Linked DNA regions of Homo sapiens. The protein of the gene in region 1 purifies or fractionates together with the protein of each later gene. This does not show direct contact. Each region holds a gene or a part of one and is shown in the gene's direction. Other genes may lie near its edges.

Evidence for each region. The genes of interacting proteins can lie anywhere in the genome.
Region 2: the proteins of SPAG9 (region 1) and NFKB1 purify together in Homo sapiens (affinity purification with mass spectrometry; 5 studies listed by BioGRID and IntAct, with this or other methods). This does not show direct contact.

Annotation. Positions count from the first base shown.
Region 1 is NC_000017.11:51,117,869-51,125,190, reverse strand, and holds the start of SPAG9 (C-Jun-amino-terminal kinase-interacting protein 4), read left to right. Parts: upstream 1-4,322; 5' UTR 4,323-4,534; coding exon 4,535-4,837; intron 4,838-7,322. UniProt on the Homo sapiens protein: The JNK-interacting protein (JIP) group of scaffold proteins selectively mediates JNK signaling by aggregating specific components of the MAPK cascade to form a functional JNK signaling module.
Region 2 is NC_000004.12:102,602,326-102,609,358, forward strand, and holds part of NFKB1 (nuclear factor NF-kappa-B p105 subunit), read left to right. Parts: intron 1-189; exon of another isoform or gene 190-661; intron 662-4,170; coding exon 4,171-4,372; intron 4,373-4,824; coding exon 4,825-4,994; intron 4,995-5,323; coding exon 5,324-5,426; intron 5,427-7,033.

The DNA of each region.
Region 1 (7,322 bases):
TTTCTTTCTTTATGGAGTTGTGGTATTGCTCTGTTGCCCAGGCTGGAGTGCAGTTGTGCCATCACAGCTCATTGCAGCCTCAACCTCCTGGGCTCCAGTGATCCTTATAGCTTAGCTCCCCAAGTAGTAGCTGGGACTACAGGCCTGCATCAGCACAACCTGGGCTTTATTTTTTATTTTTATTTTCAGAAATGCTCTGGCTATGTTGCCCAGGCTTCTCTCAAACTCCTACCCTCAACTGATCCTCCCACCTCAGCCTCCCAAAGTGCTGGGACAGATTTTCTAACAAACCCCTTCATCATACGGATGAATAAGCTGAAGTTTACAGCCCTTATCCTTGTGACTGTCACTAAGTGGGTAATCAGTAACTACTTGCTCTTTTGTTTATGGCCTAAGTTGTTCAAAATGACCAGTCCATACTAGAATACAAGGTTCCTAATTTCAACACCAGTTTCTTTCACCTCAATCATACTGAGTGATGTGCTTTCATTGGGTCTACTATAAAAATCATTATAGCCATAAATTTTATTTATTTATGTATTTATTTGAGATGGAGTCTCGGTCTATCGCCCAGGCTGGAGTGCAATGGCATGATCTCAGCTCACTACAACCTCTGCCTCCCAGTTCAAGCGATTCTCCTGCCTCAGCCTCCCGAGTAGCTGGGATTACAGGTGCACGCCACCATGCCCGGCTAATTTTTGTATTTTTAGTAGAGATGGGGTTTCACCATGTTGGCCAGCTGGTCTCGAACTCCTGACCTCAAGTGATCTGCTCGCCTTGGCCTTCCAAAGTGCTGGGATTACAGGCATGAGCCACCACGCCCCACCAGCCATAACTTTTACTTCATATATTTTTTTAATAGCTTGAGATATAATTCACATACCATATGATTCACTCATTTAATGTGTAAAGTTGAATGTCTTTTAGCATATTTTCAGAGTTGTGTATTCACCATTATAATCAATTTTTAGAACATTTTCATTATCCTAAAAAGAAACCCCATACCTATTAGCAGGCACTCCCATTTCCCCTCATCTCACCCTCTCATGCCCCTGAGACCTAGCCAATCACTAAATTCACATTTCATACGAATGGAATTGTACAATATGTGGTCCTTTGTGACTGACTTCTTTCACTTAGCTTTTTCAAGATTCAGCTGTATCTCTGGGCATGGTGGCTCACGCCTGTAATCCCAGCACTTTGGGAGGCCAAGGTGGGTGGATCACCTGAGGTCAGGAGTTTGAGATCAGCCTGGCTAACGTAGTGAAACCCTGTTTCTACTAAAAATACAAAAAATTAGCCGGGTGTGGTGGCGCACACCTGTAATCCCAGCTACTCGGGAGGCTGAGGCAGGAGAATCGCTTGAACTTGGGAGGCGGAGGTTTCGGTGAGCTGAGGTTGCACCATTGCACTCCAGCTTAGGCAACAAGAGCGAAATTCCATCTCAAAAAAAAAAAAAAGATTCAGCTATGTCATGGCATGTACTTAAAATTTTTGTTTTCTTTTCTATTCTTTTTTTTTTTTTTTGGAGACGGAGTTTTGCTCTTGTTGCCCAGGCTGGAGTGCAATGGCTCGATCTTGGCTCACCACAACCTCCGCCTCCCAGGTTCAAGCGATTCTCCTGCCTCAGCCTCCTGAGTAGCTAAGAATACAGGTGCGGGCCACCACGCCCGGCTAATTTTGTATTTTTAGTAGATACAGGGTTTCTCCATATTGGTCAGGCTGATCTTGAACATCTGACCTCTGACCTCAGGTGATCCGCCCGCCTCGACCTCCCAAAGTGCTGGGAGTACAGGTGTAAGCCACCGTGCCTGGCCAAAAAAAATTTTTTTTTTTTTTTTTGTCAGGGATGAAGGTCTCACTATGTTGCCCAGGCTGGTCTCCAACTCATGGCACAAGCCATCCTCTTGCAAGTGCTGAGATTACAGGCGCGAGCCACCACGCCTACTCCCCTCCCCTCCAACGACTTTCTTTTTATTGCCAAATAATAGTCCATTGTATACCTATGTCACATTTTATCCATTCATCAGCTGATGGTTATTTAGCTGAATTTTATTTTAACTAAATGTTATCTCTGATAACTGGCAGAAGCTTAAAATCAAGACATAAGTGTGTATCTTTCTATGTTGAACGTATACCTAAAGAAGTATACTTATTAGGAATGACAATTAAAATCTCGTACTTGAAAAATCGATACTTTTTTCTTTTTTCTTTTTTTTTTTGAGATGGAGTCTCACTCTGTCGCCCAGGCTGGAGTGCAATGGTGTGATCTCTGCTCACTGCAACCTCCGCCTCCCAGGTTCAAGCTATTCTCCTGCCTCAGCCTCTTGAGTAGCTGGGATTATAGGTGTGCACCACCATGCCCGACTAATTTTTGTACTTTTTAGTAGAAATGGGGTTTCACCATATTGTTCAGGCTGGTCTTGAACTCCTGACCTTGTGATCCACCCGCCTCGGCCTCCCAAAGTGCTGGGTTACAGGCATGAGTCACCACGCCCGGCTGATACTTTTTTCTTTAAATTTTTTGATGTGTATGATAATATTGTGGAAAGAAAAAGTAAAGCCTTGCCCTATGTTTTTTGGCTCTTCTGATCCCCCAGGAAAAGAGAGGCATGCATATAGGTAGACCAGGTGAGTGACAGCCCTCAGGAAGAGAAAATAAAAGAGGAGAGATTCAGATCAAGACTTTTTCTAGTTTTCAAATATGAAAGGTTAAGAAGAGAAAGGGCATTTGCGGCTCACAGCCAACCAGCTGGTCGGCATTCCTACTACCCAAATATCTAAATGACATAAGGGTGAATGTGGGGTGAGGGTGAGAACGGGAAAAAACACAGGCCGCAAATTCAGTCCCATCTGGCACTTCATAAGACTTAGTATTTTCATCTTTGTCCTTCCAAATTTATAGGTTTACTCTTGCCCAACCTTCATATTGTTTTTATGGGTCTCCAGGTGGGTCATGCGTAGGAAACTTTAGGGGACTACTTCATACTTGGTGGGAAGTACTTAAACTTGTAAACCCCAAGCTAAGGGTAGTTATGATCCCGGTGGGTGGCCAATTCTCCCCTTAAACCTATGTTTATCCTGCCTTTCCTCCCCCTTTTCTTAAACGAGTCGGGACGGAGAGCTGAGTCACCTGAGACACAGAGAAGGGACTTTTGAGAGTGTCTTCCGTCCCATTTGCGGACGTTAGATGAGCACACCGGGATCCTTGACTCAGCCCGCTCTAGGCGTGGGCGTTGTGTCATTCCCCACACGTGACACTCTCCCAGGCGGCAGAAACCTCACTTGTCATGGGACTTATTCACTCCAGTGACTCCACCCCTTACCTCCTCTGTTCCCCAACCTCCCACTTACCCTTTCCGCCCCACTTCAAGACTTGAGGAGAGGAGGGTGGCTGGAGCCTGGAAATGTCCCCGTCCCAAGTTGGCCAGAAGTAGCAGACACACTATGTGGGAAAGTGCCACATGTAACGTTCCAGTTTCACCCTTCTCCAGAATGCTATCACCCTTCCTGTTTATTTTTTAATAACTTGAGATATAATTCACACGCCATATGATTCACTCACTTAACGTGTAAAGTTGAATGTCTTTTAGCATATTTAGAGTTGTGTATTCATCACTATAATACATTTTTTAGAACATTTTTATTATCCCAAAACGAAATCCCATACCTATTAGCAGTCACTCCCATTTCCCCTCATCTCACCCTTGCTCTTCCATAGCACAAAACAGTTCTATTCTATTCGAGACCACCTTTCCACTTGGGCAGACCCTGGTTATGGTTTTTTTTCCCTCCCTTTCTGTTTCCAGTTTTTTTCGGAGCCCGGAATTCTCAATCTGGGTAATTGGTTTGAGTCCCGGCTCAGCCCGTTTCCCGTTGTAGCTGCGTGACCTTGAGAGCAACGCCACTTTCCTGGGCCTAGTTTCTTTGTCTGTGAAACGAGGTCCAAATATCTACCTCTTTACGCCTGTTGTGGGGATGAAGTGAGTAGGTGCTTTGTGAGCTTTAAAAAGCCATAGAAATGCCAGCTAAGTTAACTCGTCACTCTTCCCGAACCCCTCCCTTTCCCCTGGGACCCGCCCCGCGAATCCCGCTGTGGATGGATACTTCTCCCCACCCGCCGACCGCAGTCTTTCCCATTGGCGCCCGCACCGTCTTCGCGGCGCCGGGTGTTGACGCCATGGCTTCCTCCGCCAGCGCCCGAAGACGCTTGGCCCCGCCCCCGGCCGCGCCTGGCCTCCCGCGGCGCCCCGCCCATCGGGCCGACGCGGCGCCGGCCCCGCCCCGCGGATGACGTGTGGCGCGCGCGGCCGGGCCGCCCCGGCAGTTGGTGCAGCGGCGGTTGGGGTGAGAGCGCCTACGCCACCCCTCCCCTCCTCCGGCCCCGGCCCCCACCCCGCCGGGCCCAGCCCCAGCCCCGGCCCGGGCTCCAGCCCTAGTACCCGTCCCAGCCCGAGTCGGGTCCGTCCCGTGCGGGCAGGTGCCGCCCCTCTGCCGGCGACGCCCCGGGCCGCCCGCCCGTCCGCTTGCCACCATGGAGCTGGAGGACGGTGTGGTGTATCAGGAGGAGCCCGGCGGCTCCGGGGCCGTGATGTCGGAGCGGGTGTCCGGCCTGGCCGGCTCCATCTACCGCGAGTTCGAGCGGCTTATCGGGCGCTATGACGAGGAGGTGGTCAAAGAGCTGATGCCGCTGGTGGTGGCTGTGCTGGAGAACCTGGACTCGGTGTTCGCGCAGGACCAGGAGCACCAGGTGGAGCTGGAGCTGCTGCGGGACGACAACGAGCAGCTCATCACCCAGTACGAGCGGGAGAAGGCGCTGCGCAAGCACGCTGAGGAGGTGAGGCCGGCGGCAGGGCGGGGGCCGCGGGATCCGTCTCCGGGGGCGGCCGGGGCGGGGTCGCGGCCCGGTCGGGGACTAGAGGCGCGACGGGCCTCCTGGAGGGCGGGCCTGAGGCCGATGCCCCCTGGGACCGATCCCGGCGGCCTCCAGGTACCCCGGGAGCCAGGCCGGCGTTGGAAGCCGAGGCCGGCTACTGAGTGTCCTGGGAAGGGAGCGAGATGGAGGAGGCAGGGCCCGGGGAGGAAGCGGCAGCCTGGCCTGAGGACACCTGGGGTTGGCCAAGGGCGGAGATTGTTGGGTGTCTGGTTGCTTCTTGTTGAGGGAAGTTTCCGACCACCGTGGGATAGTCAGATGGCGGTTCAAAGTTTTACCCTTGGGGAGGGGGACACTTCTGCCCTGGATATGTAACTTCCGCTAGTTCCAGTACCTTTCCAGGGGGTTGCCTTGCTTTGGGAAGTTAGAGATCTCCCTCTTTCGGTCAGTTTCTTCTTGACGTTTTAATCTTGTTGAGAAAGACGTCTTATTTTATGTTCTATGTGCCTTGGTTGACACTTTGTCAACTTTTAGATGTTGTGTGGCAGTACTCAATAAATATATAAACAATTTCGTTGGTATCCCAAACCAAAGCATTCCTCCGTATCAGGTTGTAACCTTGGACAGTTCCCTTCAAAAACCCTCCGTTTATTTATAAAAAGGATTGGGGGGCGGGGTTGGGAAGATGTAGGTGACAGTTGGCAACACTTTTTCCGTCTGAGTTTCCTTCTTAGACTGCTGTTTATACGTGCATTTGGCCACCTGTTAACTCTAGCACCCGAGCAGTGACCTGGGCGCCCTCACCTCGACTCTGTGAACCTTTTGGAGTTCTAGGGTGCAAGTGATAGGTCCTTGGCTTCTTGAGACTGACAAGGAGTTTAGCTTTCAGCCTGCGTTGGCGTTATTTCTGTGGACCTTATCAAAGGCAGGTGATGTGTCCTATTTTTGTTTCTCAAGCACCTAGCACACCTGCTTAAATACATGGTGATCAAAGGAGGCGAAATAACTAATTATTGAAGGAATGACATAGTATTTTTCAAAAAGACTTGAAGAGTTTTTAGGATGTGAGGTTTGTAGCTCATTTCCTGACACTGAATAGTAACACCATTAAATTTTTGTTTTATTTTGTCACGTATACCTTTGCATCTGGTTAAATAGTTCTTTTTCCTTTTTTAAAAGCTTGACTGTAGTGATGATTTTTAGTTCTGATTGTGGGATCCAATTTTCTCAAAGGAATGCTATTGAATTTGCCAAACAAAATTGCCTTTTTTTTTTTTTTTTTTTGAGACGTAGTCTCACTCTGTCGCCCAGGGTGAAGTGCAGTGGAGTGATCTTGGCTCACTGCAACCTCTGCCTGCCGGGTTCAAGCGATTCTTGTGCCTCAGCTTCCTAAGGAGCTAGGACAACACTCCCCGCTCATTTTTGTTTTTTGTAGAGACAGGATTTCTCCATGGTGCCTAGGATGGTCTTGAACTCCTGGCCTCAAGTGATCTGCCCACTTTGGCCTCGGGCTGACCATCCCAGTGCTGGGATTACAGGCATGAGCCACCGCACCCCGCCAGAATGGACTATTTCAAGAGCTTTTCCTTTCATATAGGGAAGGAAGGGATGAAAAACCAAATAATGATAGGATCACAATTTCCGCTTGTTTGTTAGCACTCTTTATAGAACAGAGGTCAAGTGCTACTTGCTGCTTCATGCTCATATAGCCCCTTGCCAGTGTGTGGATATACATGGAAGTGACTGGGAATTAACCACATGTACACACAGGTGACAAGCAAGCCTGACATGACCTTTTACCTCACGTAAAATAAATGCTCCCTCCAGCCTTAAACTCCTGTCAGTCCGTGTAAATATGGGCAAAATGCCAGGGTCACACGTGCCAAGAAAACCATCTGCCACAGGTTGCAGAATCAGAAAACAAAATTGCCCGACTGCTAGACTCTGGGTTCCCTATTAATTTCTTGAGTAAATGACTCTAAAAAAAATAGGTTATCCAATGAATTTATTTGTAGTTTATATTTTTTCAGTTACATCTGTAAATTCTCCATAGTGAAACCATTGGGCAAAGGGTCATGACCTGAGAACAGAGAACATTTATGAAATGCTAAATGAGCCCACTCCCAGGCCACAAACATAAACACACCTTGTTATCAGTTTTCTTTTCTCTTTTTTTTTTTTTTTGAGACAGAGTCTCTCTCTGTCGCCAGGCTGGAGTGCAGTGGCACGATCTCGGCTCACTGCCTCCCGGGTTCAAGCAATTCTTCTGCCTCAGCCGCCCGAGTAGCTGGGACTATAGGCACGTGCCACCCCGCCCAGCTAATATGTATATATATTTTGTATTTTAGTAGAGACGGGGTTTCACCTTGTTGCCCAGGCTGGTCTTGAACTCCTGAGCTCAGGCAATCCACTCGCCTCAGCCTCCCAAAGTACTGGGATTACAGATGTG
Region 2 (7,033 bases), on another chromosome or scaffold:
CGAGATCATCCTGGCTAACATGGTGAAACCCCGTCTCTACTAGAAATACAAAAAAAAAAAAAAAATTAGCCAGGCATGGTGGCAGGCGCCTGTAGTCCCAGCTACTCGGGAGGCTGAGGCAGGAGAATGGTGTGAACCTGGAGGCTGAGCTTGCAATGAGGCGAGATCGCGCCACTGCACTCCAGCCTGGGTGACAGAGTGACGCTCTGTCTCAAAAAAAAAAAAAAAAGTGTGCTTTAAAGTGCATTTAAAGCAAAACTACTAAAACGTTTACATGTGGCTCTTAATAGTTTTTACCTGTGACTAGGTAAAAATTAATAGGTTTCCTGATAGGGGAAAATGACCATTTTTCATTCAATATAAGTCACCATTAGGCTTCTTCACTGGCTCTTGTGCTTCTTGTCAAAGGAAAAGTAAAGTTAGTGACTCTTCACTGCCTGTTAATATAAAATAACTAGTATGAAGTGTGATTGTAGATTTACATTTAAAGGATGTCTTCTTGAAACTTTCATACCGTTTTGGGGTCATTGGTATCCGTAAGGTCATTTTGCCTGTAAAGCTTGATTCTCGCAGACTTTTGGCTGATTGTTCCTTGTAGTCATCACAAATCTATGAATAAAACCAGGAATGGGACATTGTAGCTTGTCAGTCCTCTTTTCAAACCCTGCTTAACAGTCATATTCAAGGAATTACTTATTTTATGTTTATAAATAGGATCTGCAAAGGACACAGCACAACAGGATTAGTAGCTGTGATTTTTTTTTGGAGACAGAGTCTCACTCTGTCACCCAGACTGGAATGCAGTGGCGCGATCTCGGCTCACTGCAACCTCCACCTCCCAGGTTCAAGCGATTCTTCTGCCTCAGCCTCCTGAGTAGCTGGGATTACAGGCGTGCACCACCACACCCAGCTAATTTTTGTATTTTTAGTAGAGATGGGGTTTCACCATGTTGGTCTGGCTGGTCTTGAACTCCTGATCTCGTAATCTGCCAGCCTCGGCCTCCCAAAGTGCTGGGATTACAGGCATGAGCCACTGCGTCTGGCCAGTAGCTATGATTTTTTTTTTATATCCTAAACTCTTTACTGTATCATTTGGTTACATATGTTGAGACTCTCCAGTGTGTTAGAGACAAAAACCCTGAAACCGCCACCATTGATACTTCTATCCCTTCTGATTTGGGGACTCTCAGAAGACTATACGTCCATTTTTCCCCTACCTTACCACCAGTCTGATTAATGGGCAGTGATTCTGGCTTCCCTAGTATGCCTTCTAGGTGTCAAACACACACCCAATGGCAACTTTGATTTGAGAATTAGAAACTGCTAAGATTTGAACTCTTGATTATCTGTTGTAAAGGTTCTCTAGTAACTATTCTTAATGGAAAATGATACAGTTCTCTAAATAATTTGGATTATTTGACAGTTAAGCATTCTTCCCAAATACCTTTCACTAATCTAAGTACATTTCTGTGACCATCTGTCATGATCAAATTCCTCTCCCCACCCACCCTCTAGAAACACACTCAAAATAGTCCAAGTGCACCGAGTTAGGATTTTTTATGAAAATATTCTCTTTAAGCCTTTTTCTCCTTTCATTCTCCTTCCCCCAACATAGACAACCACTCTATCGTGTTTGGTATGGATTGTTTTATTTGTGTATGTTCCCATAAAACATTATTGGAGGGTTTTATGTATTTTTATGTTTTTAATTATTATACATATCATGTATATTCATAGTTTTAAAAATGGTACAGAAGAATCTACATTGGAAAGTCAAAGTTGCCCACCCTGACAATGCCCAGGTCTGCTAGCACAAATGTCACTATTGTGTTTATAGGTAGTTTTTCAAGTACTGGATACAAATGTACGTATACTTGAAATACATAGATATTTTCATATACTCTCACATACAATCCACATTATATTAAATGTACTTCTCTTGCCTTGCATTAACCTTTAAAATTTTTTTAATTTAATTTAATTATAGATTCAAAGGAGGTTACAAAAACGTACTAGGAAGTCCTAGTATTTACTGCAAGGAAACCAGAGGTCTCTTCACCCAGTTTCCCCCAATGGTAACATCCTGCATAACCTCAGAACAGTGTCAAAACCTGGAAATAGACGTTGATACAATCCACAGATCTTAATCAGATTTCACCAGTTTTACACACACTTGTGTGTATCTGTATAGTTCTTTGTGCATATATTTTTTAAATGCCTAAGTGGCATTGTGCTACATGTTACTGTATTTCTGCCTTCACTGCTTATCCACACAGTTCTACATATAGCTAGTTTGTTGTTTCAGCTCCTGAAGAGAATCTAGTATGGGTCTTTCACCTATAACATCCTTGTTTCCTAGTAGTAGACATTTAACCAACTTCTAACTTCCTACCTCAGTAGATAATACTGCAGTGACTGTCCTCACTTATGTCCTCTTGTGGATTTGTGTCAGAATTTCACCCAGATACATCTGCAAGAGTTGGGTTGCTGGGACATTTGTATATTTGGCTTTCCAGAATGTCTGTGTAAGTCCCCATGCCCACAGCCATAGCATGAAGGTATAATTGTTTAAGATATAATCCTTGGATTTAAGAACTAGAAGGTTTATATCATGGAAAACCATTGATTGGACTGTGGAAGAAAATATTAAAAAAAAAAAACCTCTCCGACTCATAAGATATTTTTTAATTAAATTCAAGCTACAGATAATTTATAATTCCTGAATGGTATACTATCTTATAATTTCAGATCCTTTTTTCACAATCTCATTCTCTTTCCTTTTCCCATCTCCCCAAGTAGCATTTCAGAAAACACAGATTAGTAAACACAGTTTCCATTGACTTATTTTTGAGAAGAAGGCTCTTGGCAACAATATCTAAAGTTTTGAGGACATCACTTCATTTCAGGCCAGGTTGATAGTCCTAGAAAATGAAAGAAATAAGGGCAAGTAATAATTTGGCAAAAAAAAAGGGTCTTGTATAGTAAATAATCACTGTAGTTGAGATTTAGACTACCCTCCCATCATTCATCCTGCCAGTTATCATGTGCTGTGGTCACCTACACAGCTAGGAGGTTGGTGGCTCACCTGCTGCTGTAGCCAGTAACTGCTCAATGAAAAGGGAATTTTAGGCAAATTGTCACAAGACTGGCTGGATGTCATAGTTAGGCTCCTGTGAAATAAACTGATTTGTATAAAGATACATTGCTGTTCTCTGTCAGTGAACTCAGTTATTTGAAAGATACGTTTGTGATTGTATTTGTCTTACTCATTTTTGAAAACACACAGTTTGCAAAACATCTTATTTGCATTCACCGAAGTAATACCTTGTGGGCAGGATAGTCAAATGGACTATTTAAGTACCTATTAGGTATCAGCAGCTCACCTTTTTTATTCAGCTGAGCCCCCTTGGTGAGATACTTGTATTATCCTGGTTATGTTATTTAGAATCTTATAATACCTTTTATGAAATGGGTGTAGGAAAGCTATATTGACTGGTCTCAGGAGCCAGTCCATGGGACAGTATTTTTTAATTTAGTAAATTTAGTTTCCATGTCAGCATAGAATCATGGCACTTTTGTTAATTGGTTTCTATTGAGTACTTTATTTAAATTTCTTCAGTGAAAACATAGCCTTAATTTGATTTGTTAATATAAAATTATCAGCTGGAGGTAACTCCTACCAGATATTTAAGAAAACTAAATTTACTACTAGGTGTGCTCAAAATCAACAATCAGTGGGTTGTAGTGAGAAACAAGAAGCTATTAAGACTTGTAAATATGAAAATAACCCACCACAGAAAAAATTGTAAGTATATGAAGTGATGGATTTGTAACTTAGCCTGATTTAATCATTTTATGTTGTAAACTTAGATTAAAACATCACATTGTACCTCATAAATATATACAATTACTATTTGTCAATTAAATTTAAGATAAATAAGAATTTTAAAACATGAATTATTGAATGGCTAAGTGTTAGTACAGTATATGTACTTCATTAGCATATAGTATGGAACAGGATAACTTGGGTGCCAAGGTCAGAAGTTAATCTGGGAATGAGAAATATTCCTGCAGTATGGCCCCACCTATTGCAGTAACAGCTACCAAGCTGTGAGTTGTAAGTAAGTATTCACTGCTGACCAGTGAATCTCCTGCCCTTTCACTTTCCAGACGCCCTTGCACTTGGCAGTGATCACTAAGCAGGAAGATGTGGTGGAGGATTTGCTGAGGGCTGGGGCCGACCTGAGCCTTCTGGACCGCTTGGGTAACTCTGTTTTGCACCTAGCTGCCAAAGAAGGACATGATAAAGTTCTCAGTATCTTACTCAAGCACAAAAAGGCAGCACTACTTCTTGACCACCCCAACGGGGACGGTAAGAGACAATCACACATCATTGGTGTAACTTTCTCCACCTTCTAAATATCTACTAGGTATTTGATAAACGTGTGTTATTTGATTTGCACCCAAAAGTGCTTTCCTTAGTCACCTGGAGTTCATCATCTCTTTTGGGCATTTCTGTTGCTCACCAAAGCTAATTTTTTTAAAGATGATTTGGAATAGTTAGTAGGAGGAGAAAGCAGAGGCCTGAGTAAAGATTCATCTTGAAGTACACAAAGCGTCGTTTATTCAGAGAATGTTTATTTATGTTCATGTCTCCTGAGAACATAATAGGAGACTGTGGGTCTTCAAAGCAGAACAATAGACTTATAGTATCTTTACTGTCCCTCCCCATGATTCAGTTTTTGCCATTTCCTTCAGCTTCACAAGGGCCATCTTGTGAGTTAGCCATCCCATCCTGTGACTGTCCCTTTGCTTGGACTCTAGGTCTGAATGCCATTCATCTAGCCATGATGAGCAATAGCCTGCCATGTTTGCTGCTGCTGGTGGCCGCTGGGGCTGACGTCAATGCTCAGGAGCAGAAGTCCGGGCGCACAGCACTGCACCTGGCTGTGGAGCACGACAACATCTCATTGGCAGGCTGCCTGCTCCTGGAGGTGAAGGGCACACTTATTTGCTTTTGCATTAAATTTCTGAGGGAGATTTAAGGAAATCTTTTCAAAGAAGGAAGTCAGTAGCTGCTGTTCTCCCTTACAATCAGCTCTATTTGTTTAACATTTATGGAGGGCTTCAGAGTACCACCTTTAGACATTCCCCCAACCCCCTTGCTTGGCATCTCTAACTGGGGATTTCTTCAATGACAGAGCCAGCCCAAAGTAGCAATTGGGCTAGTAATAGGACCCAAGGAGCCATGCACACTGGGAGGTGGGGACAAAAGGGCAAAAGAACCTTCCACTAACGCTTTCTTGTGTGGGCTGGATTGTAGGGTGATGCCCATGTGGACAGTACTACCTACGATGGAACCACACCCCTGCATATAGCAGCTGGGAGAGGGTCCACCAGGCTGGCAGCTCTTCTCAAAGCAGCAGGTAAGATGGTGATCTGGCGGTCATTAATGAAAAATGTTACCAGGAATGCAAACCCAACTTCAATAGAGCAGTCATGTTGCCTTCTTTAAGCCACAGACCTACTGCTGAAAAACAAGGGTAAATAAAAATTATATGGCAAATCACATTTTATCTGCCATAAGGCACTGTTTGGACTAGTAATCTTGGGCTTTACCCTGATAGTCATTTTAGTTTTTACTTTCTGATTCATCTGTTTGTTTGGGGTTTGATTGTTTAGATTGACTCCCATGACAAAGGGTCTTTTCAAAGTAGAGTTTGATTCCTTATAGAATTCTGAGTGGTATTAGTCTCAGATCATATCAGAAGGCCCCAGAAGAAAAAGATTATTGGTATAAGAAATCATTTAAAGACTTCATTTTGAAAGAAATATCTCTTAGAAATTGAAGTGTAGGAAAAAGAAAATGGGCCATGTATTAAGACCCATTATGTGGAAGGCACTAAAAATGGCTAGCACTTATTGACCTTTCTGTGTACCAGGCACTGTGATATGCACTTTATGTGCACAGTCTCATTTAATGCCCAATCACCCCTTGTGACAAATACCATTATTCCCCATCTTAGAGTCAAGGAAACAGACTAGAGAGACTACCAGATCCCACTTCAGGGTTCCAGTAAGTGACAGAGCTATGAATCACACTTCGGCAGTGTGAACTTCAAGACTTTATTCTCTGTACTATGTTTCTCTCTCCTATTTTGCTCATAGGTTTGCAGATGTTATTCCATTTAATTCTCTAGTCCTGTGAAGTATAGAAAATTATCCATGCTGATCTTTGAATCTCCAGTGCCTTGCATATTTAGAACCTCAAAATATGTGTAATGAAATTGGCATCTGAAGCCTGCCCTGACATATCTGATATACTTTAGAGGCTTTTTTTTTTTTTAACTTAAAAGGTAAATGCTTCATAAATTCAAGAAAACAAAGCAAAAGACATAGGAACTTTTTCTTTGGGACACCATATTTTTCTTTTCTCTTTTGTTAAATAGAACTTTTTCTTGAACAAGAAACTCTGATTGCAGTGGGTATTAATAGTTTTAGAAGACACTGATTAATTAAATGCCTTCCAACAAGAAGCTATAACCAGCCAGACGTGATGGCTCACACCTGTAAACTCAGCACTTTGAGAGGCTGAGGTGGGAGGGTCACTTGCACTAGGAGTGTGAGACCAACCAGGTTAACATTGTAAGACCTCATCTCCATTAAAAAATTTAAAAAGTAGCCAGGCATGGTGGCATGCGCCTATAGTCGCAGCTAGTTTGGAGGCCGAGGTAGAAGTATCACTTGAGCCTGTGAGTTCAAGGGTGCAGTGAGCTACAGTTTCACCACTGCACTCCAGCCTGAGCTATAGAATAAGAATAAGACCCTGTCTCAAAAAAAAAAAAGAAAAAGAAAGAAACTATAACCCTTTTAAAAATGCTTTATATTGAATTCTCAGAATCCCATGAAAGGAAAAGCAAGTAACAGTTTCTCTGATATATAAATGAAGAAACTCAGATGAAAAACCAAGTCCTAATCTTAATGTCGTGGAAAAGGTCAGTTAAGTCCGAGTGTGGTGGCTCACACCTGTAAT